Linked DNA regions of Homo sapiens: region 1 is linked to region 2. Evidence: fine-mapped expression QTL. A gene starts in region 2. The other region holds a variant in brackets. All regions are shown on one strand. Distances are between the middles of the regions. Region 1 overlaps PTPRR (protein tyrosine phosphatase receptor type R). Region 2 holds the start of PTPRR (protein tyrosine phosphatase receptor type R).

Region 1 (16,388 bases), 220 kb before region 2:
ATTAGTTCAGTCTGGATAGCCCTAAATTGCTTATTGCACTGATTTCCTTTCTTCTGACCTACAACAAACACATGGCCTGGACAGAAGTCTTTTTCACTATTTGGAAGAAGCTGTCTTTAGTTAGCATATGTAGCGGTTTGTTCACTGACAGCACAAGTATCTGATATTGGTTAGATTCGTTTAGTGCTAGCAACATTGTCTTAAATTCTAAAATCACTTTCCATCAAGAGTTGAAAGACTCTTTGTGGACTAAAGTGTTACGGAAAATGTGGAAATTATTTTTACCATCATTTGCATACATTAATATTACTAATTCGTCTCTTTATGATTTCTTTGACCTGGTACACTCTGAGCTTTTTGAAGGCAGGGATGGGGATTTTTCACCATCTTTATAAGATCTAATGTCTTGCATAGCAGACCTTCAGTGAATGTCTACTGCACTGATTTAAAGATCTCTTCTATTTTTTAAAAAAAGGTCAGTTCTATATATCCTTCTCTAGCAATTATTCTATTGCTTTTCTTTTTTAGACAGGCAAACTTCTGAAAGAGTTTATTATACACACACTTCCTCCATGCTCATCTGCAACTCAATCCTCCTCATGTACACTGTGATCTATCCTAACCCTAGCACTGTGCAGAGACTGCCCTTGCTAAGGTCACCACTGACCCTCTTGTTGTTAAGCCCAGTGATCCCATTGTGGTATTTTTGTTCATGTCCTCTCTGAAGCATTCAAAAACTGTTGACTGTATATCCTTTTTTCGAGTTTTCTCTTCCCTTAGATTCTGGGACACAACGTTCTGGTTTTCCTGCTCCCTTTTCGGTGGCCTCTTTCCAATCTCCTGCTCATTTAATCTGCCCCTTTTCATGTTGCTAATTCTAGGATTCAACTTGACCCTCTTTTATCCTCACTTGATACTGCCTTGTTGAGTGACTCATTCATTCCTGTGACTTTATTACGCACATCCTGAGGGCTCTCAAATACATACTTCAGACCAGCCCGGTCTCCTCATTTATAGTCCAGCTTTTTCTATTTATTATTTCCTTCTGAATGGACCACAGGTTTGTGAAACTCCTCATGCCCTTCATGTGTTCCTGACAGCTTTCTGCTATTGTTTAGGTTAGGTGTGCTGCCACAGCTCTACAGTCCGTGTAGAGTTTCTGTGCATTTGAATGTTAGCATATTCTGCCTGTTCTGTCTCCTAAAATACGCTGGGGTCTGTCTTGCCTCTCTGTTTGCATGGCTGTCTTCTTGGACTAGGACTCAAGTATCTCCTGGTCTCCCTGCCTTCAATCTTGCTTTTTTCCAATCCATCCTCCTCATAGCTGTCAAGGTGCTCTGTAAAACAAAATCTGATCACATGATTCCATTGTCTAAATGTCATCCATACTTCCCAATTGCCCATAGCAGTATTTCCCAAAATATTTATTACCTGTAAATCATTACCTCTATAACATATAGAATTATACTATATGACTTATAAATTAAGTCATCTTTTACAAAAAGAGGTTAGTACCCAAATAAATATGGGAAACATTGGGTTAAACAAATCTGAACCATATTCTTTTTACTGCAGGACTTCTCAGGGTCTTCAGTATGTTAATGGACCCTGTGAATTTCCAAGAAGGTATTGTATATAATCCTATTTGTCCGTTGGACTCAATTTTATTATACCTACTGTATTTACATACTTAACTATTATATTTATATACTTATTGATAATTCAGTTTAGAGCAGCCCTGATCAATAGAATTTTCTGAGGTGATGAAAATATTATCTATCTGTGCTGTCCAAAAAATGTAGCCTCTAGCTTTCAAGCACTTGAAATGTGGCTAGTAAAAACTGAGAAACTAAAGTTTTAATTTTATTTAATTTTAATTCATTTAAGTGTAAACTGACCTAGCCATAAGTGGGTTCTGGTTGCTCTACTTGACAGTGCAGGCCTAGAAGATGAATGCCAAGAGGGGTACTTAGCAAGATAGAGCAGATCCTTAATGATCATCCCAAGGCCTCACCAACAGCTGCTTTCCCACGTGTATCATATAATCTAGCCCCATGGACCTAGGGCAATCTCCCAAATGTTCTATGTTTTTGCAGATTTTATGCTTTTGCACATATTGTTTCCTTTGCCTTCTCTGCATGGTAAAGTCTTCCTCATTACTCAGGGCTCAATTCAGAAAATACTGTCTTTCTGAAGTTCTCCCTGACCTTCCCAGGCAGAATTAGGCATTCTCTTCTTTGCTTGGGTCCCCTGAGTTTTATTTTAGTATTTATCATCTTGTATTTTAAGTGCTTAAATTTCTGCCTGCCCTCAATGGAGTGTGGTGAGCCCCTAGAGGGCAAAGGCTGTATTTAATTCACTTTTGTATCCTTTGTGATTTCTATTTGGGATGTGGCTCACAGAGGGTTTAATGTCAGAATTAATTTCTATGAGAAAGAGTTAAAGCCCTGTTTTTGACTTTCTAGATATTTTTTTCTTTTCTTAGCAAAGAGGACAAGAAATCTTTCATGCCTTTCAGTATCCACTGATTGTTAGAAGTTTCCATAAACATCCTACACCATTCAGGCTTGAAAAGAGGCCTGCTTCCTTCAGTTTTTATAATGCCTATGATGTATATGATTTACTGGTAAAGCTAAAAACTGCTTAGAAACAGTTTCCCTGTAAAGCTAAATTATGTTGGTAATTAGTAACTTACAGTATTTTCCAAGTATTTAGAAGTTTCCAAATCCTTTTTATTAAAAATTCAGAGAGGGGAGTCTCACTTTGTTGCCCAGGCTGAATTGCAGTGGCTACTCCCAGATGTGATCACAGCTCACTGCGACCTCAACCTCCCGGGCTCAAGTGATCCTCCTGCCTCAGCCTCCCAAGTAGCTGGGACCACACATGTGCACCACCATGCCTGGCTACATTTTGTATTTTTTGGTAGAGATGAGGTTTTGCCATGTTGCCCAGGCTAGTAATTAAACTTTTTTTGTGTGTGTGGAAATGGGGTCTTATTATATTGCCCAGGCTGGTCTCAAACTCCAGGACATGAGCCACTGTGTGTGGCTCCAACTACTTCCTTTTACAAATGCAAGAATACAACATATAACTGAGTATGGGGAAATGTAGGTTTCCAAGAAAAACTCTTGTAATATATAGCTTGTACTAAAAAAAAAAGCCAAGAATTAAACAAAAAATGTATAATCATCATCGTTTTCATCACTACTGTTATAAATGAATGAAAATGGGGCTCTTGAGTACTTTGCTTTTAAAACTGTAAACTTCTCTATACATAGATGGTACCCCTATTTCCTGGAATTGGTTCTGAGGTTAGAAATGGATTCATCTTCAGTTAGATAGGGAGGGAAAGAGAAACTAACATTAGCTGAGGGCTTACTATTAGTTGGAACTTTGACAGACATTTTACACATACTATCATTTAATTTTCTCGGTAGCCTTGTAGGAGAGTATTGTTATCACTACTTTTGGGAATAAAGGATGGCATAGGGAGATTAAATATCCTGCCAAAAATTATAAATGTTTTTGTTGGGGTAGGAAATCAAATCTAATTCCAGTATCTTGCTTTAGCTACATAACTTGTTGCTTTAATGAGTGGTTCACTTATTTGCATATCTACTCTGTGCTAGGTACTTTATATAATAAAAAAGGAAACATAATTTAAGTAGGAAACATTATTAGATGTTAAAATTTTAAATATAAAATGATGACCTGAGTAAATGGCATTCTTTAAGTGTATCTATATTATCTTATATTTGTATCAACACACTGCATAAAAGAAATATGCATACAATTTATTATTATAGTGCAGCACTATTCACAATAACAAAGACATGGAAACAACCTAGATGCCCATCAACAGTGGATTGGATAAAGAAAATGTGGTACACATACACCATGGAACACCATGAAGTCATAAAAAAGAACAAAATCATGTCCTTTGCAGCAACATGGATGCAGCTGGAGGCCATTATTCTAAGCAAATTAACACAGGAACAGAAAACCAAATATTGCATGTTCTCACTTATAAGTGAGAGCTAAATTCTGGATACACATAGACATAAAGATGAAAACAATAGTAACTGGGACTCCAAAAAAAGGGAGGGAGGGAAAGGGAGAAGGGCTGAAAATCTTCCTATTGGGTACTATGTTCACTCTCTGGGTGTCATGCCGTCAGAAGAAGCCCAAACGGCAGCATCACACAATATACCCTTGTAACAAACCTGCACAGGTACCCCCTGAATCTAAAGTAAAAATAAAAAATTTAAACTTATTATTACAGTATTTTATTGTGTGCTAATAATTTTCTATTGATGTATGATTATTATTACAGTATTATATTTTATTGTCTGCTAATAATTTTCTATTGATGTATGATTGTTTTTTCCTACTACTTTTGTGATTTAGGATGTAGACATATTTTTATCACTAATATTTGTTTACACTGCAAAATAATTTGATATAAACTTGACTTTAGCATTTTAATCTCAGCCAAGATAACACTGTCATTAGAGAAATGACTATAATTTAATTTATAATTATAAATTGATTTATTCATAATTGATTCTTGCCTATCCATATATCTGTTGCAAGGCATTCTCAGAATTGTATAATGTTGCTATTATGTACAAGCTGTCAAGCTTTTAGAACTAAGAAGAGTTTAGTGTAGGTTAAAACTAAAAACAATCATAATGTTTAAATTCTTGATCATTTAATAATCATCATTTTATGTAATATTTCAAGTTTATCTCATATTACAGTCTAAAACCATAAAGAACATCTTTGTGTATTCATTCCAGGCTTTTTGGATGCTTTCACCCAATAGTGTGGCTTTTCTAAGCTATATTTCCTAAATTATATTTTGTGCAACAGAGGGTGGTGGGTGGGGCATTCAGCCTGCAGACATTTTCAACAGAAAATCCATCATTTGCAACATCAGCTGTCAGCACAGGTGCCCTGAATCCAGCGGTCCACCCAGTTCTGTGAACGGAAAAACTGACACAGGACTATGAAGCAGTTGTCTGATATCATCTGGGCAGGAAATGGAGAAGGCTGAACTTTGAACTAATGCTAATAATTTCCAAATCCTTCTAAAATTAGATGATGGTTTGGGTATATATAATTGTGATGGAGGTATATTCCCTTATTACTTATGTTTGGTATATTTTAGATAAAAATTTAACAGAGAGAGAGAGAGGGAGAGAGAAAACACAAATTCTAACACGCAGCACTTTCATCCCCTTTGGCCAAGTATAGTCATAAAATAACCTTCAATGGTGACTCTACCTTAGGTAAATAAATTTAACTATATAGAGCAGTTAAAAATATGTTATAGTTTAACAATGTATTTCCAATTCCACCAGAAGGGGAAGGCCAAAGATAGTATTAACAGTAATTGTTTAATTACTTTATTACATCACCATTACTATGAATATAAAGAATTTGGTGTCTTATGAATGAATTAATGAACTAAATTATGAAGATTGCTATTTCAATGTCAAAAGTTAAAAAGACTTTGTGGCTCCATCTTTCCTGAGCTTTGTCGTGAGATGTTTACTGATTTTGCCAAAACTCCAACTATATCTGTTTGTTTAGTCATAGAAAATATTACTTCCTCTCCATTTTTTTTTTTTTGCCTAATTTCTCTGGACAGAATTAATTACTCAGTCCTCTCTGAACTCCTACACTGCTTGGGCAGTATCTTTATTCTGGCCTATGCACTGAGCATAATTACCATTTATATGACTCTCGTTTCTAGTCTGTGACCTCCTTGATTTTATAGACTGTTTCTTATTTCTTACTGGTCCCTGGCATTCAGGTCATTGCTTGACGTTAATAAATTCCATGAAGCTCAATCTAGTTTCACATATAGTAGTGGTTCTCAAAGTGGATCCTGGTTTCATCTGGATTGGAATCACCTAGGTGTTTGCTAAAAGTAGTTTTCTGTGCTCAACAGCAGATCTACTTAAACAAAATCCCTGGGGTTGGGCACAGGACTAACAAGGACTCCAGGTCATTGTCATGCACAGCAACATTTTTTTGGTAATAGTTTTATTGAGAAATAATTCACATTCCATACAATCCCCCCATTTCATGTGCCATCACAGCATTTTTTTTTAAATTTTCACAGAGCTGTGCAACAATCACTGTAAATCAATTTTATAACATTCAATTAGCCCCAAAATAAATACAGGTCCTTTAGCAGTCATTCTCCATATCCCCTAATGCTAAGCAACCACTAAGATATTTTCTGTCTGTATAGATTTAGCTATCTGGACATTTCATATAAATGGACTACAAAATATGAGGTCTTTTGTGCCTGGCTTCTTTCACTTAGCATGATGTTTTCAAGGTTCATTCAAGGTTCATCAGTGCCTTGTTCCTTTTTATTGATTCTATTGTGTGACTATACTACATTTTATCTATCCATTTCTCAGCTGATGGTTGCCACTCTTTGGCTATTATGAATAATGCTGTTATAAATATTTTTGTATCATTTTTGTGTGAACACATTTCATTTCTTTTAGGTAATATTTACCTAGAAGTAGAGTGTCCAGGTCATATAGCAACTCAGTTTTATCTTTTAAGGAACTGCCAAACTGTTTTCCTAAGTAGCTGTAGCTGTACTTAAAACTGTAGTGTTAAGTTTCCAATTCTCTACATCCTTGCCAGCATTTTTTATTGTCTATTTTTAAAATTATAGTTATCCTCATGGATATAAAGTACTATCTTGCTGTAGTTTTGATTTCACTGATGGCTAGTGATGTTAAACATCTTTTAATATGCTTGTTGGTCATTTGTACATCTTCTAGGGAGAAATATCCATTGAAATCTTTTGTCCATTTTTTGGGTTGTTTGTGTTTCTATTATTGAGTTGTAAGATTTGCGTATTGTAGCTACATGTCCCTTATTAGATACATGATTTGCAAATATTTATTTTCTTCCATTCTATGAGTTGTCTTTTCACTTCCTTGAAGGTATCCTTTGAAGCACAAAATTTTTAGTATTAATGAAGTTCAATTTTTTTTTGCTGCTGTTTGTGCTTTTGTTGGCTTATCTAAGAAACCACTGACTAATTCAAGGTCATAAAGATTTACAGCTGTTTTCGTTTATGAGTTTTGTAGTTCTAGCTCTTATGTGTAGGTCTCTGGTCCATTTTGAGTCAATTTTTGTCTTCAACTTCATTTTTTTGCATGTGGATATCTGGTTGTTTCTGCTCCATTTGTTGAAAAGACTCTCTTTTTCCCATTGAATTGTTTGACCCTTGACAAAAATCAGGTAGCCATAATGTGTGGCACAACAAAATTTTAGAATATGTGTCTATTGGAATTGTGACCTGGACATTATAATAAGAGTAAAAAGGTAAAATCATTAACTTCAGATAGTTTTAATGATTATTAGTCTTGACATGTGTTTGTAATTCCAAATTTGATATGAAGTGGGTGTTGTAAGAATTGGAAATGCTGAGGTAAGGGTTAATGGGAAGACTTGTCTTGTGCTTTACAATGTAAATTATTATTATTATTTATACTTTAAGTTCTGGGATACATGTGCAGAATGTGCAGGTTTGTTACATAGGTATACATGTGCCATTGTGGTTTGCTTTTGCTGCATCCATCAACCCATCATCTACATTAGGTATTTCTCCTAATGGCTATCCCTCCCCTTGCCCCCCATACAATGCAAATTATAAAATCAAGAAGCTTACTTGGTAAAATGGTCTTATAGCGATTTTTAGTTCCATGACGCGGAATATCAATTTCTTTGGGATCCACAAAGTTCATTGGTATTTCCTGCAAAAATAAATAATATCAAATTAGTGTATCTAATACTGCCACAAAGAAAATCTTCACAGGGGGGCATCTGATCCAGAGTTCTATTGGACTTCAAAGCCACTTAAAAACAACAGATCTAGCACCTCTGGTGGACCAACACCCTTCCTTTCCTAAACATATCAGCTGCATCCGGACAAGCTGACTTCTAAGAAACAGCTCTGTGTGTTAGAAAATATTGCTTAATATGTAGTCAGTAAGGAGACATATAACACTGGTTAGATTTTAAGAATCCTGCTGTGACATAATTGCTAGAAAGATTAGACAGATGCTAAAAAGTGAATTTTTTTAAAAAACAATGTATTCAAATATATTCCAGTTTTTACATAACTTTAGTACCAAAAATTTTACTATAATAGATTATCTTTTCACACTAATAGTGACTCTTTTAGGATTATTAAAACCTCTTTCCCAAAATGGTAAATATAAAGGGCTTTTTTGTTAATTCAAGTGATGACATGACTTTTTTTTGAATTAAGAAATGGTTTATAACTGGACTGTTCCATTTTAAGTTATAAATGCACTGTTTTTAGTGAAGGGCATTCAAACACTGTTTCTCCCACTTAAGAACATTACTATTCTTATTTTATCAGAGTATACATTATATGCCTCAAGTGATTGGACAGGGAACAATAGGAAAAGAGTGGCTGTATGTAAGTGCATTAGATCTAAAAAGGTGTGTATCTGTAGCTAACCAGGACAAATAAAGCAACAAGCCAAAGTTTTCAAAAGGGTCCAAACAAACATTTGTTTAAAGATTTGATTATA[C/T]AAAATAGTATGTTCTCTAACTTTGATAAGATTAACATGAACAAAATAACTTTTATGTTATTTAATGACTGATAAACATTAAATATTTGATCAAATAAGATATTTTTACTACTTAAACTTTCTCCAGTAGAAAATTTAACTTAACAGTCTAATATTGATTGAAATAGAAGAAATCATCTTTAAATTCATTCAAATTATCCTAGTTTTCAGTCATTCTGAAAATTTGAGAAAAGCTGGACTATACTATGAATTTGAGGCTTGTTCTACAGAGAGAAACAGCTATTCGTTTATTAATTAATTTATTTTTAGAGATGGGATCTCACTCTGTCACCTAGGTCAGTGTGCAGTGGCACAATCATAGCTCACTGTAACCTCAAACTCCTGGGCTCAAGGCATCCTCCCATCTCAGCTTCCTGAGTAGCTGGGATTACAAGCATGAGCCACAACACCTGGCCCCAAGTTACTTATTTTTAAAATAATTTTTCCTTTACCTGCATTATGCTAGCTATCCATGATATTTATCCCTATTCTCTGCTCCAACTAAATGTTTTAACCTGTTTGTTCCAAGTTATAAAAATAAGCAAAATTGTTGAATATTCAATGGAAAACACATGTTCATGTTTGGTAATTTCAAGCACGTCAGTGTCTTTGGGCAAAGCCACAAAGGTAATATCTTTATTCCTCCCCTTCTTCCTTCTCACCTTCTGTTTTCTGACACACACTGACAGTCTGTCATCTTCCAGCATTCTCTTTCTCCTGTGTACTCCTTCTGGCCTTCAATTTCCTTTCAGGAAAGTGGGCTATGGTAAGGTCTTATTTCATAAACAAAGAGCTGTCTGCAGTTCTAGAAAAAAAAAGCTCTAGGTGTGCCTTTGGCTAGCTGTGTGACCACTGACTTGTTCTTTCATTCCTACAGGTCTCATTTTCTTCACATGTAAAATATGATACACCACAGAGTCTGATTTTCATGTTTGTATTTTACTTTGGACACTTAATAATAGTTGATGGGGCTAATAGTAGATCCAACCCATTGCTGAATCTGTCACCATTAGGATGGCTGCAAATGCCTGAACTAATAATCAATTTATTGTACTCAACCAATACGGCTTAAGATGCAAGAGGTGATCAACAAAGTCAATATTCTCCTTGGGCAACAATTAGACCTAAGAAGGTTTAATCTTACTTCATGTTCTCTGAGTTGATGTATGTTATCATGCTTTAAGCTTTCACTAGCAACACTGGTATGTCTAAAACTGAATTCATCATTCTTTTTAGCCCACACTTGGTCTTCCTCCTGTGTTCCTTATTTCGTTAAAGGGCACCATATGCACCCTGTTGGCCAAACCAAAAACACGAATATCAATCCCTGACTTTTCCATTACTTTTGGCTGCCTCATTCAATTAATCCCACTTCTTGTAGATTCCTACAGATTCTTTCCATTTTCCCTTCTACTATATTAGTTTAGGCCACCAACGCAGTTCCACAGGATTAACACTAGAGCCTCTAAACTGCTCCCTTTTAGTGCCTACTCCACTGCAAATAGAATGATCTATCCAAAACATAAGATAAAGTCCAAGCTCCTAAACATATATTAAGGCTAGGGTTTCTTTTATACTTCTGAGGCTCAACTTTTGCCACTTCCCACCTTGATTTCAATGTTCCAGTTAAACTGAACAGTTTAATTCCCCAGACAGTGACAGCAAGGCTATTCTTTGTCCTGGAATGCCCCTTCTCTGCCCAGCTCCCTATACCACTTATTTGCCTCACCAATTCTTGCATATTCTGCCTTAATTTAGCTCTACATTCCAATTTTAATACTTATCAATAGTGGATGAGACTGAGTGAATCTAAAACCATTTCACTTTGCCATTTGTTTACTGTAGACTGCTTAAGTATAGGACAGTATCATTTCCATACGTCTCTAGTGCCCCATGTATCAAAATACCGACTGAAGAGTGAACAATAAATAGAAGGCTCACCATGAATTCACTTTGGAGTAAATGTGAACTTGCCACGACGTCCCTCAGCTGAGACCTTGTGAGAATTCGGCTGGCTGACTGCAGATACTCCATTGCTACCTTCTCCCGTGGTGTTGGTATAGACACAAAGGGTTCAATGTTCCCCAAGCTACTCATGTCCAATGTAAGAGATACGTTGGACCCTCTTCTACATTGGAGAAGAATGTTATGTTTAAACACCACATACTTATTTTGATTGCAAAAACTTGTCTTTCTGTACATGCACACAATTCAGTGAGAACTTTTACAGAAATAACAACCAACTATATTTTCTCTTTTAGTATCATGGTTGGCCATAGCAACTACCCATAGTTCCTTCACAGGAAAATAACAATTTTGTTGTTGGAAAGAACTCTAAATTGAGAAAATATGCTATAATTTATGAATGCATATACTTATTACAGAAATCATAGGTTGGCTAATAATATTAAGTGAAAAATTAAGTAAAAAAAAATTAGGAAAAGCTATATCTATATCTATATCTTCTGAGTGAATCCCTAAAAAATGGCTTCTGGGGCCAGATGAGGTAGTTCATGACTGCAATCCCAGCACTTTGGGAGGCTGAGGTGGGTGGATTGCCTGAGTTCAGGAGTTCAAGACCAACCTGGGCAACATGGTAAAACCCTGTCTCTACAAAACATACAAAAAGTAGCTGGATGTGGTGACCCACACTTGTAGTCTCAGCTACTAGGGAGGCTGAGGTGAGAGAATCATTTGAGCCCGGGGGGTTGAGGCTGCAGTGAGCCGTGATGGTGCCACTGTACTCCAGCCTGGGCAGCAGAGAGAGACCTTGGCTCTAAAATAAATAAATAAAACAATAGATAAAAATAAAAAAAGATGGCTTCTGTATCCTCTATTTATGTGTATATGTATGCACGCATATGTGAATTGACACACGAATTCATTTAATTTTGTGGTAAACTTATAAGGGGCCATAGAAATCACAGACCCTTAAAATGAGTTACAATTTATCTTCCTCTCATAATTCCCCTTTTCCCGCTGGGGGGCAAGGGGATGCTCTTACAACTTACACAGACCCTGAGTCCTGAGTAGGAAGTGAGGATGCCTTTTACAAGTAATATTAGCTGTGTGGACCAAGGGGTAACTATGAAATAGCATGTGAGAGACTGAGGATTGAAGTCAGAGATGGTGTTTACAAAAACTGTTACATTTAAAGGGGCCGTAGGTGTGTGTCAGATCAAATATAGTGCCAAGCAGTTGGCGGCTCAAGGAAGTAGAGAGCAGGGAAAAACAGGCCAAAATATGTGAGAGTAAAGACAGTAAGAGTAGATGCTAGGCCCAGCAAATTATTCCCTCTGGTATTTTAATACTTACTCTGGAATGCGACATTAAGAAATATTACAGTGGCTTGAGCTTAATTTCAAACAGTGGAAAATTATTGGAATATACAACAACAACAACAAAATCCATTAACGAAAATCTATCAGTTTTCTTCTCTGATGAATCTGCCTCTGGTTGCATTTTTGTTGTCATTCTATAATTTGATATGTAATGTCATTTTTGTTAATTTCTAAATGGTTTGTAATTGAGATTTTAATTTCTACTTTAATTTGATGGATATCTGTAAGTTTAGACATTTATTTTCCTTATAATTTCTAGTTATAGTTGTGGAAATTAGAGAATGGCTGGCCTTTTAATGGTTGAAACTACTTGATTTTTTTTCGAGATAAACACTACATCATTTTCTAAATATTTCACAGATGTTTTGCTGGCATCTAGTTTGATTATCTGTATATGTTCATAAGTATCTATCTGCACATATATACATATATATCACCTTATTTATTATACCATTATTTTATTGAAGATATTACTTTATTCCAACCTATTCTTTCCTTCCTTTTTTTTTTTCTACTGGATTTGTCAAAGCCTGAGATATGTATGTGAGTCTTCCACAATAATTATGCTTGTTATTTTTCCTTCTAACAGTTTTTACCTTGTACATTGCAGCCATTGTGTTATTTGAAGGGATTTAGTCATATCTTCACTATAAATGTTACCAATATTACTTTCTTTCCTGTTAATTTTATATTTGCCCTCACATCTGGCTTTAAAAAATGAATATTGATATGCCTATATGTTTTGGGGGGTATGTTTCTGAAAACTTTTTCTCATCCTATTATTCTTCTTAACTCTTTTGGATCACTGGGTTAGGGATTAGGGAATAGCATTTATTCTAGATGCTCATAAAATCCTGCCTACCTAATAGAGGGATATTTTTCCCACTCCACTTTTTCTTATTTGGTTTTTGGTGGTGGTTGATAGGGTTCCTGTGCTTCTGAGTAGGAGGCAAATAGTTGAAGAAGAGCAAAGAATGGTTCTACTCATGGACCAAGAATTTAATCTATTTTTAGTGGGAAAGTAGTTTTTAAAGTTTTTCAGTTCAGTTCTGGACTTCAAATTGATAGAAAATCCTTACGGATTCTGATAATAGTTTGCCGATTGGTCTTAATATTTAGGGCATTTGTGAGAATTCAGCTTTTGCAAGCTTTATAGATATTTTAGTATGAAGGTGAGAGAGGCCGCTTAAGGGATGGCTAGTCCTATGCCCTTTAAAATCACCATGCCATTCAGTCAAATTTTCAGCCTCAAGAGACAAAATTGTCTGCCCTCTGTCAATGGAGTGATGCTTGTGCTATAGATGGTGAGATCTCTTCCATCTGGAGTGGTCAGAGCAGATTCATGAGGTAGAAGTCATTTAAGTTGGGCTTTGAAAGCAAACGTTTAATAGGTGAGTTTTTGGTCTAGAGTTAAAGAATCTGGTAGGAAAAAAAGTGTAGGAGAATAAATTAATACAACTTTGAAGAACAGCATAGAAGCAGTTTGAGCTAGAGTTCTCTTGTATAAAAATGTATTTTGAAATTGGGGAGCAGGCTTATGTAAGAGAGATGAGAGAGAAGCAACAGTCATAGACACTATAAGACTATAAAAAGCCCAAAAATAGTCCAGGGATGTTGGCTGACATCTGTAATCCCAGCACTTTGGGAGACTGAGGCAGGAGGATCACTTGAGGCCAGGAGTTTGAGACTGGCTTGGGCAACATAGCAAGACCCTGTCTCTACAAAAAATAAAATAGCTAAGTGTTGTGGTGCTTGCCTGTAGTCTCAGCTATTCGGGAGGATGAGGCCGGAAGATTGCTTGAGCCCAGGAGTTCGAGGCTGCAGTGAGGTAAGATTGCACCACTGTCGTACTCCAGGTTGGGTGACAGAGTGAGACCCCATGTCAAAAATAAATAAATAAATAAATACATAAATAACGAAAAAAAAAGCCAGATAAAAGAGGATCCAGAACATCATCAGGGTGTATTAATTTCTGTTTTGACTTCCCACAGTATACGCTGCCTAAACCTGGGAGATTAGAAGCCTTTGACATCCCGTGTCTAAGGTCTATTTGATTTAATGAGTTAATTTTCTAAGGATTCTGTGGTAAGCAGAGAGCTGTGGAAGCATTTTCATGCTAACTGACTTAAATAATAACCATTTATATATTACAGTCAGAAAGACATTTCAAAAACAAGATAAACATATAAACTTATGGGAAAATTCTAATTAAGACGTATAAAAAAATTGACAGAATTTAGAAAAAAAATCAACATAAATAATAGGAGAACTATACCTTTAATAAAAAAGGAATGTGGAAAGCAAGAAAACGAACTCTACTGAAAGCTTTACTTTTATTTTGTCTTGGAACTGTGGGCAAACTGTTTAGCCTTTTTAATGCCTCATGATTGCTGTTGGACAAAAGGGAACATAATAAAAAGCTTTATCAAGCTCCTGCTGCAGCACCAATTATTATTTATGCCAAAAAATAAATAAGAGGGAGGAAATTCAAAAGATACCAATGCAAACAATTGAAGGAAAAAGCAAATTCTTAGGGAAAGGTAAAAGGAATGCAATAAACAGCATGCTAATTATAATTAACTAAAAAGGAAAATATGTATAAATATTATGGGCCAGGGCGACACATCCATTTCAGCAAGAGAATATAAACAACTTTGGGTCAAAATTGTTCAATTCTAATGACATCAGTTTCTAATGACTTAGAGGTGGGAAGAAAACGTAGCTAAAAATACAGTAACATTACAACTGAGTGTTGGAATAACTCAGAAACCAGGCATTTATTTTCCCGGTAGTTGGGGACCATAATGCTAGATTTTAGAAGCTGAATTTAGGAAGAAAGGGCTAAAATTTCTAGTATCATGTCTACGGGCTCTAATTCTCAGACATGCTACTTTTTTTGCAGTACTTTGGTCACTGAGAACAGTGAGACTTCAAGCAGTATACCTCATTTAGCAACCAATAAAGAATGGAAATGGAAGAGGACAAAATGAAACAGATGATCATTTTTTCTTGTAGTCCCGGAAGATGTACTTTTGAAACTGTTGGATTATGAAATTAAGTTTCAGTGGGAAATGGTGGCAGCTGCTTATCTTGAAATACTTGAAATGAGAACGGAAAAATATGGATTTTAAAGATTATAAGAAGAATTTAGTACAGAATGAAAGCAAACAGATTTGACTTCCGAGATTTTTTTTTTTGGTTCTGTGAAAAGTATATATAATTTGTCTGGAGTTGTCTTCATTAGTGTACACGTCAAATCTTATGTGGTGAGAAGCAAGAACTTTAATGTTGATGTTGTCTTCAGAACTGAAAATGTGATCTTGAATCCTTTAGTCCAACTATTCATCCTTGTGTGTTACAGTGGCCATGAATCTGACAATCTTGGCTTGATCATAAAAGGTGACCTTAAACCCTCTCACCCACAACTTATTTAATTTTGCACATACAATTTTTCTACATAGTTTTCTAGAATAACTCTACTTAAACAGAATGAAAAAGGAAAAAAAAAACAAGTTTTTGCTCATTTGAATAACAAAGGAGACAAAAGTGGAGAAATGGAGAGATGGAATTCTTTTACTTTGTGTGGACTGAGTGGCATAGGCAGTTTTTGCAACTCCCAATTCTATGACTTTTAAGTTCCGAGGTTAATGGCATTTAATAATGTTATGCTGTTTCCATCTCTTTATCTTCCAGTAAATTATACATAGTACCAACCCTCTTTCTGGATCACTTGAAAGATGATAGGATAAAACAGAAATAAACACGGACCACTAGGAAAGTTAAATTGTGACATAAATGGAGTGTTACCAATTTCGAGAACTGAAATAAATGAGTAGGTATTGTGACCATTCATAATAAAATTTCCCAAAGGAAATCCTGAAGGGAAGAAATAATAATAAATATAAAAGATGCCAGGCATGAACCCAGGAAGATGATATATGAATTTCACCCTAAAGTAAAAAGAAAATCTTTTAACATAGAGAACATTTTTAGTGTAGGAAATGATCCATTTTCCTACCTGAAAGGACCTACACCTCACTAGGTAGAATGTTGCTATGCCTTTTGATTGAATCTATAAAAGTTTTGAATTCATAAAAAGATGTCTGACCTTTTATATGTGTATAGGACAAGGCAAAATTTACTACACCCTTATTTTACAAAAAAAATTCAAAACAATCATTTAAAAGAACCAGATACATTGAACTTGTCACATTACTCTTGAAATATTGACCTTGGAAAATGCGTTCAATCATTGTTCTGCATTTCGCTTAAGCAACTTGGACCTTAGACTGCATAATCTGCAAATGGGAATAATAATAAAACTCACAAAATTGACTCACACCATAAAAGATAAATAAGCAAGAATATGTGAATACTTCCACCCTAATGTCTGGGATATAATAAACAT
Region 2 (16,388 bases):
TGAGAGAAAAAATGTATACAACCACTCAAATATTCAGACATTTTGTGTGATGATTTGGTTTTTAATTCAGAGAGAAAAGGAGGGTTGAATAATTTTTGGTCTTGATTTATTGAAGCCACTGTCTCACACTCCCACCTGATTTTGAATGTGTAAATGTCTTGTATTTGCTATAGGTAGATAATAACCAATCAGTAATCAGGGTTAGGAGTTCCGGGTCCATTCTGTAGTGGACAACTATCATGCTATGTTGTTTATCTAACTCTTTGAGCTCTTTAAAGTAAAAAAAAAATCTCATTCTATTCTTAAGTAGTACTGGAAAATCATGCAAGAATGTCTATCCATCTAGAAAGAGTTCAGCACACAAGTACACTACAAATAGCATCATGCCCATGGGACACAAACTTATCTTATGGAGTGTATTTACATAGAAAATTTTCTGTCCCATCTCCATTTCCTTGTTGTCAATAAGTGTAAATTGCACTAAGGTGGCAGTAGTAAAGTCAATTACCTTCTTTATGGTCATGAAGATGAGATATAATCTCTTGGTCAATGTAAATTAATTTATCACAATTCATTTTAACAAATATATTTAATATATGTATTCATTCATTGAACACTTACTGATGCCATATTAGGTAACAAGCATAGTTCTAGGGAATAAGTATATAGAAATAAAGCTGCAATTGTGTTATTGTTCTCAAAAAACTTCAGTATACAGGTTAAGTACATTGACAGGGGAATATACAGGATTGAAAAGGGAAATGTAGGAGAGCTACTTGAATGAGGTGAGTCATCCAAAAAAAAGAAGATTCTCAAAGTGGGCTATGCCTGATCAACATTTGAAGTTGGAGAAAGAGTCATCTAAAAAAAGGAGCAGAGTATTGGTATTTAAGAGAAATAGAACAGTATGTGAAATGATTCAAGACATGGCAAACCAAAGGAAATTTTGTCTTAGTGTGATATTAGTGTGCAAAGGAGGGCAAGATGAGAAGACCTCATCGCAAAAGACTGCCTTCCTAATGAGTTTGGAGTTTATTCTAAAAGAAAAGGAGATAGCTGTATTAAAGAATTTTTTGGAGAAAGAATATGATCAGGTATGCTTTTAAGAGTTTCACCTCCGACATTATTATAAAGAATAAATTTGATAGGAGGTCATCACAAGATATTATGTGAGAAATAAGGATCTGTCTCAAGGCAGTGACATGATCATGGAGAGTGGAGAACATCTTATGAGAAGAGTTTGAAACCTTTAAGATGAAAGTAGCAAAGGGATGATCTAGGATCAATTATTTGTTTCAGACCTGGGTCATTGTGAAGAATCCTGGTGTTATTCACAATGTTAGGGAATATTTATCAGAGTAATTGTGTTGAGAAGTGTTGAGTAAAAATAGTTGTATATAAGATTATTGTGGGGCCAGGTACTGTGGCTCACACCTGTAATCCCAGCACTCTCTGAGGTTGAGGCAGGAGGACTGCTTGAGCCCAGGAGGTCGAGGCTGCAGGGAGCCATGATTGCACCACTGCACTCAAGCTTGGGCAACAGAGTGAGGCCCTGTCTCTAACAACAACAACAGCAACAACAACAACAACAAAAACAAAAAGATTACTATGGAATATACAATGACTTCTAGGTAATTTTAAATATAGAACCAGAGTTCAGGGGAGATAACTGAGATGGAAATGTGGATTTTGGAATCTTTGACGTGCAAGTCTGAGTATAATTATCCAGGGAGATTGTATACAGAGAAAAATAACAAAAAATCAATGACAAGCTGTAGAGAGCACTAACCATTAAATAATACACAGCAGAAGACCTAAAAGTACAAATTGAGAAATGGCTGGAGAAATAAGAGGGAAGCTAGGAAGTAATGACTGTCTGTGGAAGTCAAGTGAGGAAAAATTTTAAAATTCAGAAAGGGGTCAAAATATATAAGTACTATAGAAATGCATTGATAACAAGAACATACATTACAATAACCTCTTTAATTATGTTCAACCATAGGATGATAGGATGAGGACGGAAGCTGATAGAGAAGTAGGTGAGAAATAAAGAAGAAAAGGCTGAATGTGCATAATGCATCCCAGAATTTTTACAAGGTGTTAGGTAGGATGTGATTTTCAATGGAATATGTGAGGTGCTATTCTATTGGAGGTGCTAGAAATATGTCATCTCCAATATACATATTCCTGTGTCTCTTAAGTACCAAAGAAGCAAATCAGTTTTTTCTAGTGTATTAGACTCTCTGTTTGTAAATCAGCTGATCCCTGTAGCCATTCCTACATGTACAAGGCATTTCACTGAGAAGTGAAAATGTAGCCAATCAGCAAAGAATTTGGGCTGCACAATATCTGGCAATCAGTTTGAAAGACTTTTTTCACTGAGTTGATTAGTAGTTCTGGTCTAACACAAACCCATCCTTTATTGCCCTTCAGTTCACAATGACAGCAAAATCTGTTAGAGATAGTGTGTTTTGGGGGCATGTGAGGCAACATGAGTTTTGGACAAATGAGCTGTTTAAGTCCATTCCAGAAGTGGCTAAGTGGACTATGTGTGTTTTTTGTGGGTGTTAAGAAGATATTAAATGCAAAAAGAAGAGACCAGAAATATCACTGTATTACATTATTTATTTAACTTATTTATTTAATCTTTAGAAAGATTTTATGTCAGGAACTGCCCCCAGGTACTAGGTAGCCCAAGACCTCTAATACATGCAATAATAAACAAAACAGGCAAAAATATGTGCCCTAAATGGGCTTACATTTTAATACAGAGAGGGGAAACTACAATAAAAAAAGTAAAATATATTGTATGTTGGGTGGTGAAGACCTCTGGGGAAAGAAAAGTTAGGCAGGGAAAGGGTGCTAGAATTTTTATCTGGGTGATGGGGGGAAGGGAAAATGAAATATGAAATAGAATAACCTCATTAACAAGGTAATATTTAATTAAAGTTCTAAAATTATTGTGGGATTAAGCTGTGGAGACACCTGGAGAAAGAAAAAAGCAAAACAGTATGAAAGGGTGAGTGCCTGGCATCTTCTAGAAACAGAAGGATAAATATGGCTGGAGAGAGGTAAAAAAAGAAGAAAGTAGTGAGAGATAATATCATAGAAATAATGTGGAGAGAGACTCTAGACCATTGTAAGGTCTATATTGAGTGATTTTCAATAGGAAAAACAAATTCTGGAGTTCTAAGGAACATCTTAAAATCTTAAAATATATCATTTACCTGTTAGTCTATCGTTTCTTTTGAGGGTGGTACTTCTGCAAATCATCTCCCAGATCTTCTTGGCACCATCATAGAATACCTTTCTTCTCAGAGACTAGAGAAATTGACTATGCACTTCTCTGAGAGATTTTCAATAGGAAAAACAAATTCTGGAGTTCTAAGGAACATCTTAAAATCTTAAAATATATCATTTACCTGTTAGTCTATCCTTTCTTTTGAGGGTGGTACTTCTGCAAATCACCTCCCAGATCTTCTTGGTACTATCATAGAATACCTTTCTTCTTAGAGTCTAAGGAAATTGACTATGCACTTCTCTGAGAGTGAAGAGATAGTTTCAGGAGATACATTGAAGGCAGTCTTTGTGCCATTCAAAAAGGCTGATAGCAAGAACAACACAGAAATTTGAAAGAACCTTTTCCAGAACTCAAAGAGAAAGCAATGGATTGAAATCAGTTTCTGTATTTTGTTAGCAAAACATTCCCTAGGAAAAAGAAAGCTTTCACATGAGAATTTTTAATATATCTCAAAAATGTACTCTTTTGCAACTAAAATACAACACTATAAATAATATCTCCTCAAATGGAATATGCTTCTTTGGACAAAGGAAGAGGAGAAATGCTGAAGAAAATAAGCTCTGTGGATCTTCCACATAATATTTTTTTACCATTCGTATTATTGTGGTGGCTTTTAATTGCCTCCTTGAATATTCCTGAAGTGGTATTTTCAACTGGAGTTTATATATTAAACTGGTTCACGAAAGAGTAAAGAATAAGGACAGTTAGGTAAAAAGTATTTTGCACCACTAACTTAATCAATGGTGGCCTCACCTATTGTAGAACCAGTGTATAATTTTATATAGTATGCAACCACGGGTCTGGAAACCTGGGCTTTTATCCCGACTATGCTATTAACTACCACTTTAATACTCTAGATCTTCATTTTCTCACCTGTAAAATAAGCAGTTGGATGGACAATAACCACAACTTCCTTGTTAGGTGATCTATAAAAATCGGCTGCCATGGGTAGAGTAGTGTCCAGCTTCTCTAACAAGAACCATGCTTAGTAATCCTTTAGTGTTAATTTACCCAGAGATGCCACTTACACAGCATGGTACCCACTCCTCATTTTTCTCCCACAGCTATTATAGACCACAGTACTTCTCCCTAGCCAGAATGCGAGTCATAATCTTCTTTTTCCCCCCGATGGTGTCTTAGGCAACCATAAGCAAAATAATGGGAGATGGCACTCAAGTTGCAAGCAGTTTGCTACTTATCATTACAGGCATGGTTATATTGAAGGCAACAGTTCCTAATATAGCTAAAAAGAACACTTACATCCCGTTAGCACATTCCTCCCATCTCTAAAGCATTATAAGGTGTCATCAGTTCCACCAGCATAAAGCAGTTGCTGATACCCTGGGCGTAACCAAAATGGATCAATTAGCTTTACAGTTAAAGAGGCCTGAATGTATAGAATTCATTTCCCTTCTTTATGAAGTCAGCCTCTGTTCTGAGAGAAAAGTCTTCCATAAAAGTAACAAACTCACACCTTCAACAAGTAGAGATTAATATCTTGATTTCTTGATCTTTGTCATCCCATCCACTTATTTTCTTAATCTCCAAATGTATAGAAGCTTAGACCAAGGAGCTGTGTTTGTTTTAGTTCTGATGAAAAGCCCTAACAATGTTATTAGATAACTGTGATAAATTTTAATCTGATGACAGCTTGTGACCCACAAATTGCTGTTTAAAATTAAAATGCATTTAAAATGAAATTGGCAAGAGAACTATAATATTAAACTTACAATCTGCTGTGATAAAACACCAATGTATTTTACTATATTAAATATGAATACAATGAATAGTATCTTGCAATTGAAATATAAAAATGTCCTTAAATGCATTTTCTTATTAAATTAAAATTGGTTGATTAATCTTACTTTTTATCTTTGTTTTGCAAATTAAAAAGTTGAAGTAGAGATGGATTGGATTGGCTTTGGTAATATACCCTTTGGCAGAACTCCAGGTAAAATCTAGGGCTACAGGCTTCTAGGTTTCTCATCTGATGAGCAAAAGTCCTCATTTTTCTCATCCCGAATATTCATCTACAGTAAATCAAGACATGTTTTTCACATGCTTCAGTTTATTTATAACTTTTAAGATATAATTACTCAAGATGTATCAAATGTGATCTTTAAACTTTTTTATATGTTAGTTTTGAAAAAATGACTACACTGATATTGTTGGCAGACCAGCTAAATCATTGCTACCTTAGTAAGAATTGAGATTTTTCTGTAATGAATGTTTGTGTCAGTCTATTATTAAGCAATACTATAAATAAAACTCAACCCAATGTGTATGTTTTCATCCCACATTTCAGCATTGAAGAATTGTATGTGGTAACGAAATAATTCACTACAGCTGTTTGCAAATAATTTAATAATCAAGTCATAGCTATTTTCTACTTCTCAAAATGTGCCAAAGAACTATTGAAAACTCCACAATATAACATCATAATTATAACAATTAACATGTGTATTTAATAATAGCTTTAATAATCCTATGCATTATTTGCTCAAAAGATTCATGATACATTTAAATAATAGCGTTAGCTGGAATAAGAAAGTACCATATTTCACTCCTACTATTGTACACAGAGAATAAAATTCACCCACTCTTTTAAAAAAGATACTGCAAGGATTGTAATTTCAGAACAATTATTTTTACTCATTACCCCTAGAACATAGTATACACTCAGCAAATGTTGCTTGAAGGAATGAATGGATATGTGTGATTGGATGAGAAGCACACTCAGGGAAAATGCCTCGTCTCTGGTTGTTACAGGACTACTGCATGGACAACTGCTGTCACAGTAGGGTTTCTAAAATCTCCCTGCCATATTTTATTTTGGTTCATGTGTGTGTGACAATGATAAGGAATTCAGCCTAGCAAGTCTGTCTGCATTAAATAGAGGTGCTATGTATGCAAAAAGCAGGGACACCACATATAATATCTCTCAGGTACTTCCCAAGGTTTGCTTCCTCACGAGACTTGATATTGATTCTGGTGCCTCAAATCTATTTATATTTGGGAGCAGTCTCACTGTTACTCTTGGTTACACCTTATCAAATCTGTCCGAGGGACAGTGCCTAACCCAGGGTTGTCAGCTTTGGAACTGTAATTGTTTTTTTTTTTTTTTTTTTTTTTTTTTTTTTTAATATGCCAGCGGACGCTAGCCACGGTGCTGAAAGAGACAAGAGGATTCTATTTGAAACCTTTTCTTCCTCTTATTGGCTTAGAAAATTCGAGTGACAAGAGCAGGGGCCAAAGGAGCCTGGTGCAGCATCACTAATGTGAACCATGTATTTCGATCTTTTGGGCGGAGATGTGGTCCATCAGGTTACAGCCAATGCCTTCCTATGAGCGCTCGCTAGACCAAGAGACCTTATGAATGTAGTAGCCGCTGCAGTAGAAAAGGTTACATCTAGCAGGATGTCTTATCCCTCTCCTGAAAAATTGACAGTTAAGTGCATAGCCTAGAAACAAGAGCAGGGAATCTAGACGGAGGGGAGGCGAAGGGGGGAGCAAACCTGTATTCATATTGAAAATGTTCACTATTTTCGTATAAAGTAAAGAAAAATCAAGAGCTAATTTTAGGTTAAGTTTTCGGCCTCAGTTTTCCAACAGGTGCACGACTCCCTCACCCCTTCCCTGTCAGGTACTGTCCTGTTTTACCTTTTTAGAAAGGCTTTCTTCGCAAGGCAAGCTTTTCCTAGAGTCCTTAAGCATGTGCAGTTTCCCATCTCATGCACAGCTCCGGCTCTAAGCCTGGCAACCCCTTACCTGCAGCGTGAAGATTAAGGAGCAGGCACAGCGCAGGGAAGCAGACTGCTCTCCGCATAGTGTTTGCATTGAGAGGTGGAGGAGAAACTCCACCACGACCCCACTTCAGGTAAAGTGCTATTAGAAAGAGCCACCGCCAAGGGTCTTCTAGTCTCCGGGATTCAGGTCCTCGGCTGGGGTTTGCAGAGCAGTCAGTCTGTGGCGCCGACAGAAACCAGCACCAGCTTCAACCTCCCTAAGAGAGGGAGAGAGGAAGAGCAGTAGGAGGTTGCGGGTAAGGGGAACAGAAGCGCTCAGAGGCGGCAAATGCCTGGCCTTCTGGACGCCCAGAAGCCAAGGCGGAGACGGCAGGGTGGACTCCGCGCCAGCCCAGCAGCCCAGCAGCAGCGCCGCGGCTACTGAGCATGCCCAGCGCCGGCCCTCACGAGGCAAGGGAATTTCAAAGTGAAATTCCGCTTCTCCGGGTCTTAGCGGCGGCTTGGAGCAGAGTAGGCTCCATCGCTGGGGTGGTGGTTGGGGGTGGGGGTGGGGGTGGGGAAGGGGGAAGTGCGGGGGAGACACTTGCTGTGGTTACTAGGGACCCAGCGTCCATCACAAATCCGAAGGTGGGGTGTAGCTGAGTGAGAGTAGATGGGGGCACGACCACAGGAGTCAGAGGAGGGAGCTGATGACATTGTCAACCATGCCACCCACCCTACTCTTTCCCCAAATCTTGATTTACACGTGGACCGAGCTCACTGCTGGGAATTGGCATTTGCAGATTGACCAGCTTCCCAGGACTCGCCTACAGGAATAGAGGTGTCTTCCACTGCTGAGCATTCTGGCTGCTCGGGGGAAGCGTTCCCAAGGCAGCTTGCTTGGTGTAAGCAGTAACCATGTATCTTGGGGGTGACTTCGTCCTTCCTACAGCTTCCCCCTCTTTGCTTCTCTTTCCACTCTTTCCAGCTCAATGACTGTATTTAAACTTTCTTCTGACTCAAGTCCTCACAGTGACAGAAAGAAGTGAGAAGATACTTTTAGACTAGTAGAATATATCCATGTAATTGAAGCACAAGAAGGCACCTTTTTGTTTCGTGGAGGTAATTAACTTTAGTTTCCCTTTTACTCTTTAAGGTGAAAGATAATGGATCACGTCAGTGCCTGGACTCATCCGGCCCAGCTCTGTGTCTCTAGGGAGGCTACCACAGTCTGCCATTAGATGGTTTTTTATCCCTCCATCTAAGTCTTTGGAGTGTGGAAAGCCTTATTAGTCATGGCTAATTGCTGCTAGTCAAGTCAAGAAGTCCCTCAGCTAGACTTCTCTTTTAACTATCCCAGGGCCTCTGCCCTTTCTGCCTCTGTGTCTTTATGGACACTGTTGCCTCTTTCCCATTTTCCTCCACTTGCACCACCACCACACTAGTTTTCGAAGGTGTAATGTTGGTCTCACTTTTCCAGAAAGCCCTAACTCTAACTAACTCTAGATTACAGTGATCTTTCTCTTCCACAACACTTGTTTAGCCGTGCCTCATATTATTCTTTCAGACAGTTCATTTATCTGTGGTTTGTTCTACAGCACATTGAAGTCTCCATAAGAACTGCTGAGTTTTGTATTCCATTAACTTGAATAAAGTTGTCCTAGCCAAATAATTGGGGCTAACAAGTGCCCATTGAGTTGAGCTGCACATCTCATTCAGTGCTTTCTTTCTCCATCCTCTGTGAATTGAGACAACTAATGGGAAATAGGCTATCCACCAGAGCTTAAATTAGGTGGGACCTTATAAGATCAGAGAGCCCAGGCGGTACCATTTATTTCTTTTATGATTTATGTCATCTTCAGCTCTGAGAGACAAGGCCAGGAAGCACTCCAACAAGTGGGAGAAGGGGACAATGAGATGTACTTTTAATATCTTGACAGGCCTTCTCTGCTGAAAATAGAGACATATCTCCATGTCTAGCCCCTCTCTAGCAACGTGCTCCACCCCCTACTCCCCCATGCGTGTGGCACACTCCATTTCTGTGGCACTATCATTTCATCCCAAACCACTCTAAGCTGCAACCTCTTCTCCTATTCCTGATTCACTGTCCTCCAGTTTGCTTTTCCCGTATCACTTTCTAACAAACCAAAATAATTACTTATAAAATCTATTGTTTAGTATCTATTTCCCTACTCCCCCCCGCAAAACAGAATTTGAGCTCCAATGTTGAAGAACTTTGATGACTTTATTGATATGTCCCAACTCCCTAGAGCAATGCCTCATGCAAAATAGATACTCAAAAATGAATAAATGAAAATGATAGTTGACAAAGTTCAATACTGACAATTAACTCTTTGAAATTCTTACTGAGTCAACCTTTGAGATAATTTATTTAGCATTCTGTAAAGCTTAGAAGAATAACTCTTCTCATCTAACATCTGTTACTAGAAATGCTGCAGGGCTGGAGGTTAGGGAAAAATAATTGTATCCCACTTACAATAGGTCTATTTTTCTTATTTTCTTGTTTCCTAAAATAACTAATTATCAAACTTACATAGATCTCCAAGAATAAAATATACTTACTTATGGTAATGAAACAATGCTGCAGTAATGTTCTGAACCCCTTCCTTTTCCACAGATAATTCCAACATTTATTGGTGGGGCATTTAAAATTCCCATTATTATAATTGACTATGACTTTGCCAAAAAGCATCCTGCTGGCAATGTATTTTGTTCAGGGCTGCAGGTAGCTGAATTGTTAAACTATGCATGAAAATTCCGTTAGCAGCAAAAATTTCCAATTTCCAATTTGGCTGGATATATCATTAGAATAGTTAGTTCAGCATGGTAAAAATAACCCTGAGTGGGCTGTAATTTTGGTGACTAGACATTCATTATTAATTTACTTAGAAATGATAAAGTAACGAAAAAGGTCATATTCCTATGTGAGTCAATCTAATATCATACTTGTAACGGCTTCAATTCACTTTTTCACTAATTGGCTAATTCACTCATTGCTGTTCGTGAAGTCAAACAGCAATGAATGAATTAGCCAATTAGTGAAAAAGTCAACCACTTAACTCATACAGAAATATTCTGAGTCGATAGGTGCTGTTTTTCCTTAACTGTGATCTAATGCTAGTGAAGGTGACTTGGTGTTTTGGAAAAAAAGCTTGGTTAAAACACTGCATCAGGGTTTTAAAAAGTTAGCTGTAATTCAAAGAAGCATGGAAATTACTATGAGAGAACTATACAAATTAGTAGTGGCCTACAGAGCTATGTCATAAAAGAATCATTTACATTTTACAAGATAAATAAAAAATATCATATGGAATTTTCCTCCACATAAGATGCATAATTTCTTTTTCTTATGAGGTGAGTCTTAGAGAAAATTTATGCAAGAAAGAAGCTTTTCAGAGCCTGCCTTCAAAACAGATTTAATCATTATGAGCATCCATATTTACTTCTCTATAAATGGATGAAAATTATTCATGTCAGCCATCTTTCCTTAAGACACTTTAAATTGAGAAATCAGATCCATTGATTATAAGGATCTCCTACTTAAGTTATTTAGATTACTATTATTTAAGTATAATTATGGCTAACATTGACTGTGCTTCCTGTGTGCCAGGTTCTATTCTAAGCATTTGGATGTCCTATTTAAACATTATAATATTTCTACAAAAGGATACTATAATGATCTCATTTTAGAGATAATATAGTTGAGGCATGGAGAAGTAACTTGCCCAAAATCAAGTAGTAAGTAATCAGTTAAAAAGTAAATTGATAGAATTAAGATGTACATCTGATAATTTGATACCAAACCACTATATTATACTACCTCTAATAACACACACACACACACACACACACAGACACACACACACTCAGTTGTAGGTTGCTCACTAGAATTAGATGATTAGATCAGGGCTGGGCATGAGATGCCTGGCCCCACAGTAAAGCTCTGTGTTGAGGAACACTCATAGAAGACTGTCTCCAGGAGAACAAGAGACACTGCTTGTGGCAGTGGACTCTGGGCCCTAGCATCTAGTGAACAAAGACAGCAAGTAAAATCATGCTTAGAGGAACTGTGTTAGAAAGATGCTTAAGATAGAATGGAGAAGAATGGAGGAAATGATTTCTTCTATGGAGGGTGGGAGCAGAGGAGGGGATGGGCAGCAGGCAAGAAACTGGTGGGCAACAGGAAACGAACTGAGTCTGGCTGGATAAGTAGGTTCTAACTGCTCTACATGAAGAGAAAGGCCAGGGAATTGTGTGAGCCAGTGGCAGAGATATAAAGCAGCAAAATGGATTCAAGGAACTTCTGAACATGTAAGGGAGCAATAGGTAACAGTTATAAACACCTCACTAAGATTTGTTCTGTGCTTGCCCTTTCCCATCCTTTATGCAGCCACTTTATCAATCCCAAAGTCTGTTTCCTTTTGTCTGAGAGCTATCTTTTATAAGAGGAGAAAAGAAGAAAAATAATTTCTTTTTACAAAGTAAATAATTGATGTGAATTAAGCTATATTCAGAGTGGAATATAGCTCAGGATGAAAAGGAATGAATTCAAAATTCACAGATGAAAATACCATGTTCAGGTATATAAATTCACCATTATTATTTTTTAGTATTTTCCCAACCATAACAAGAAGAATGATCTACCCTTTCTCATAAGCATACAGTGAAGAGAACAATGAAATTGCAAGGGGCAATAAGAATAGGGGAGGAAAAGCACTAAAATTCTAAAAATATATATTATCACATTGAAGTCTCACAAGAGCTGTGTGAAGTATTATTTTTTTTTTTTTTTTGTAGTAGAGGAGAAAACTGAAGCTCAGCGAAGCTAGTAATTTGCCTATAGCCATCCAGTTGGTAAGTGGTGAAGCTGGGATTAGAACTCAGGTATGGTGACCCCTAGCACTATGCTGTTATCAGCTGTATTGTACAACATCCCTGCTTAATGACCGAACTTATTTTAATACTTAAATTGAAAACAGTGTTCTTATCCCAAGACACAGACTTCAAGATGGATAACAACAATTACATTTTATAACTTAACACAGTTGTAGTTTTGTTAAATTAAAGCATTTGATACACACACACAAAGGCAGCAATATGTATCCTAAGGAAAAAAATTAGGTACCTAAAACAAGGCAGATATACTTTTCTGTGCATATGTGAATTATGCTATTGTAGTAAAACATAAAATATGAAAAGCAGAAAGGCTATATGTACCTATAGATTCTGCTATTGGTTCATCATTAAAATTTTATTCAAAACGAAGAACAAAGTTTTCTTGGAGCTAGCCCTTGGTACCAATGTATTGTATTGTCATCTATTCTGGCACTGCAAAGGTCAGATTCATCCAAGATGTCAGTAATAGATTTATTTACAAACCTCTGACTCTCCTGCTTTAGCTCTCTGTTTATCCCAAGACACTAATCAGGCTGCACTTATATTATCCATCATCCTGAGCAGCACACAGATGTGACAGCCCTCTGTTATGGCTTAGACTATCTACTTTGAGCATTCAAATACATTTTCTGCAATGGTTGGCCATTCTTTTAGATTTCCTTGAATGAGGCCACTTTGGAACAACTTGTTCACACAATAGCCTGGGACACTAAGTATATCCTGGGATTGTAACTGTGGGTTGATTAGATCATTTAATCTTGCTCTCATTTCTCTACATTATTTTCTCACATAATTACAAGATGATTTAAAAGGACATCTCCCAAATATAGGCCTTAATGTCTCCCTCACTGACTCTTCATTCTTTTTTTTTTTGCATATATATATATCTTTATTATGCCTTAAGTTCTAGGGTACATGTGCACAACGTGCAGGTTTGTTACATATGTATACATGTGCCATGTTGGTGTGCTGCACCCATTAACTCGTCATTTACATTAGGTATATCTCCAATGCTATCCCTCCCTGCTCCCCCTGCCCCACAACAGGCCCCGGTGTTGACTTTTCATTCTTTAAAACTAAAAGTTTAAGGCCGGGCACGGTAGCTCACACCTGTAATCCCAGCACTTTGGGAGGCCAAGGCAGGCAGATCACCTGAGGTCAGGAGTCCAAAACCTGCCCTGGCCTGGCCAACATGGTGAAACCTCGTTTCTATGAAAATTCAAAAATTAGCCAGGCATGATGGTGGATGCCTGTAATCCCAGCTACTCGGGAGGCTGAGGTGGCAGAATCCCTTGAACCTATGAGGTGGAGGTTGCAGTGAGTTGAGATAGCATCATTGAATTCCAGCCTGAGCAACAGAGCAAGACTCCATCTCAAAATAATAATAATAATAATAATAATAATAATAATAATAATATTGAATAAAAGTTTAAACTTTTTAAAAATACTTATTTCTTTCACTCATTCTTGCTGCTGGATGCCTATAATAGAGAATGGGGTGGTTTATTAGTCTATAGTTCGTGGTTGCAAAGCATTTCAGAAGAAATTTTTTTTTCTTGTTAGACACCTGCACCTCTATAACATGAAGAGTTAATCTTACTAAAAATGTCCATTGACTATAACACAACCACTAATACACCCAGACAATGAAGCAGTTGTTTACGGTTTTAAGTTCGACTCATTCATCAGAAACCATATGTGATAGGGCAACACGGGTGCCTATGTTCAGTGAAGTCAAGTCATTTGAAGTCACATTACGGTAGGATATACTATATCGCATACATTCCAAAAACAGTGGAATCATCTGCCGACATTTCGTTGGTATGTTGCTTGATTTCAAATAATTAAACTATATATTGAGTACCTATGATGCATCAGGAAGTATATTAAGTACTTGGGATATATTGTTGAACAAAATAGACTAACATTTTTGCTTTAGCTTAAATTGTAAGTGAAATGTACCTTTAATAGTAAATATAAGAAATAAGTAAATTATATAGTATGATGGAAATTGATGACTGCTATGAGAAACAGAAAAAGTAGATCTAAGTAAGGGGAATTAGGCAGGTGGGGGTGGGGTGGGAGAAGAATATGAGTGCAAGGATTTTGCAGAATTAAGTAGGGTCTTTAAGTGGAGAAAGCGAGCATTGAGAAAGACTTGGAAGTTGAAATTAGCTGAGCAGAAACCTGGTTAAAGAACTTCCTAGGCCGAGGGAATAGCTACAGCAAAGACTCTCATGATTCCATAGATATCTTAACCAATCTGAAAAAAAAACCCCACAGTATCAGAAATAATTTTCAGCATATCTGTAAATATATAAAATATATAAAGAGAAATCCAGTTGGCAAATTGCCAAATTAGTTTAAATGAATATTTTTACACCAGAGATTTTCATTGATTCATGTTTCACTGATTTCAAATACAACTGTGAGATAGCAAAGCCGTTAACAAGATTCAGAAATTGGGACTACCCAAAGCCAACTGATGTACCAACTAAGAATTCTGCTCTTTATTCCATGTTTTTGGTGTAAAATAAACACCTTATTGATTTAGAAATGTGGGTGCCTATTTTGATATTTTATTCATTTTGAGAAACAAAGAAAAACTTTGTGAGCTGCCCTTATACTAAAACCACTAGCAAAAAGTCAAGCTAACATAATATGAATGAGAAATATAAGCAGGAAATGAGACCGGGCGCGGTGGCTCACACCTGTAATCCCAGCGCTTTGGGAGGCAGAGGCGGATGGATCACCTGAGGTCAGGAGTTTGAGACCAGGCTAGCTAACAGGGTGAAACCGTCTCTACTAAAAATACAAAAATTAGCCGGGTGTGGTGGCACATGCCTATAATCCCAGCTACCTGGGAGGCTGAGGCAGGAGAATCGCTTGAATCCAGGAGGCAGAGGTTGCAGTGAGCTGAGATCATACCACTGCACTCCAGCCTTGGTGACAGAGTGAGATTCTGTCTTAAAAAAAAAAAAAAAAAAGAAAAGAAAAAAAATATAAGCAGGAAAAGAATGAGAAAAATGCCCTAGCAAGCATTTTTGTTTTCTCAGCCTCCTGTGTGGCAAATGACATCAGAATATTTGGGTTAGTTATTGTCCAAATGCTGGAGGAAAACAGTTTGACAAATTCCTTGTTTCTTAGGATGGCTTAAGCAAATCATTTTGATACTTTATTATTTTTGGATGAAATAGAAGGTAGCTTCATTTTATTTTTAAGTAAAATTCCTTTTTTATTCAATTTAATGTGATAGGTGCCCATCAAAATACTACCTTACTGTGGCCGGGCGCGGTGGCTCACGCGTGTAATCCCAGCACTTTGGGAGGCCGAGGTGGGAGGATCACGAGGTCAGGAGATCAAGACCATCCTAGCTAACATGGTGAAACCCCATCTGTACTAAAAAAAAATACAAAAAAAAATTAGCCGGGCATGGTGGTGGGCGCCTGTAGTCCTAGCTACTTCGGAGGCTGAGGCAGGAGAATGGGGTGAACCCGGGAGGCGGAGGTTGCAGTGAGCCAAGATCGCGCCACTGCACTCCAGCCCGGGTGACAGAGCGAGACTCCATCTTAAAAACAAAACAAAAACAAACAAACAAAAAAACAAAAAAAACTACCTTACTGTTAATAGAAATAGAAAATATAAACCATTTCTCTTACAAAGGTGTCATTTGGAACCTCTAATCTTGGAAGTACTTTACTTTAGGAAAGATATCTACCCTCAAATTTGTCTTCCAAACTTAAACTAAAATCATATTTTATATTAGGTTTGTATCATAGAGATTAGAAAATGAATTCCTTTCAAAACCAAATTCAGCTCCAAAACTGGAAATAAAATGAAATTTTATTTGAATCAGTCATAAACATAATATATAGAAGCCCAATTTTACCTCACTATTTCTAGAAAGTAGGCAAAAACCAGGATGGTATTTCTGCAGTTTTCCTTCATCTAAATTAATTCTCTTCAGACTGAAATTGAACATTCTAAAGTACAAAATTTTGTAATATTGTGTCTATTGCACAATAGACAATAGAGAAAAAACAAAATAGAATGTGATCTATGGATTCTACCAACTGGTGACAAATACAGCTAATGCTTTGGCATAGCTGGTTTTCCTCTACCCTCATCTTGGGGATATGTGTGTCTTTGCATGCATGTACCTATAATTATTGTTAGTTTTAACATTATTTTTACATCATTGGGATCATGCTATGAATTTGGAAACTATTTCTTTACCTAATAATACTGTGAGACATAATTCCATGTCATTTAAGTTTGTTCACAATCATATTTTTAATTGTTGCAGAGCATCGTGCCATAGCATTCTATCATTGGCTTATTTTTTCAAGCCCTTCCTCAATTAAGGTGAATTGCTTCAGGAGAGCAAGGAAAGACATTCAGATAATGCTCACTTACTGTACAAAATAATGAAAATTATTATATAT

The links.
Region 1: its variant is fine-mapped to the expression of PTPRR in lung (TOPMed, PIP above 0.99).

Annotation. Positions count from the first base shown.
Region 1 is chr12:70,690,557-70,706,944 of GRCh38, forward strand. It overlaps PTPRR (protein tyrosine phosphatase receptor type R), which reads right to left. Exons shown (of 14, transcript NM_002849.4): 7 at 10,581-10,767; 8 at 7,709-7,793. Among named protein-coding and RNA genes, the nearest start is that of PTPRB, 61 kb to the left of the region's middle. The variant C/T (reference allele first, on the strand shown) is at 8,601.
Region 2 is chr12:70,913,264-70,929,651 of GRCh38, forward strand. It overlaps PTPRR (protein tyrosine phosphatase receptor type R), which reads right to left and starts at 7,475. Exons shown (of 14, transcript NM_002849.4): 1 at 7,070-7,475. The coding sequence starts at 7,127.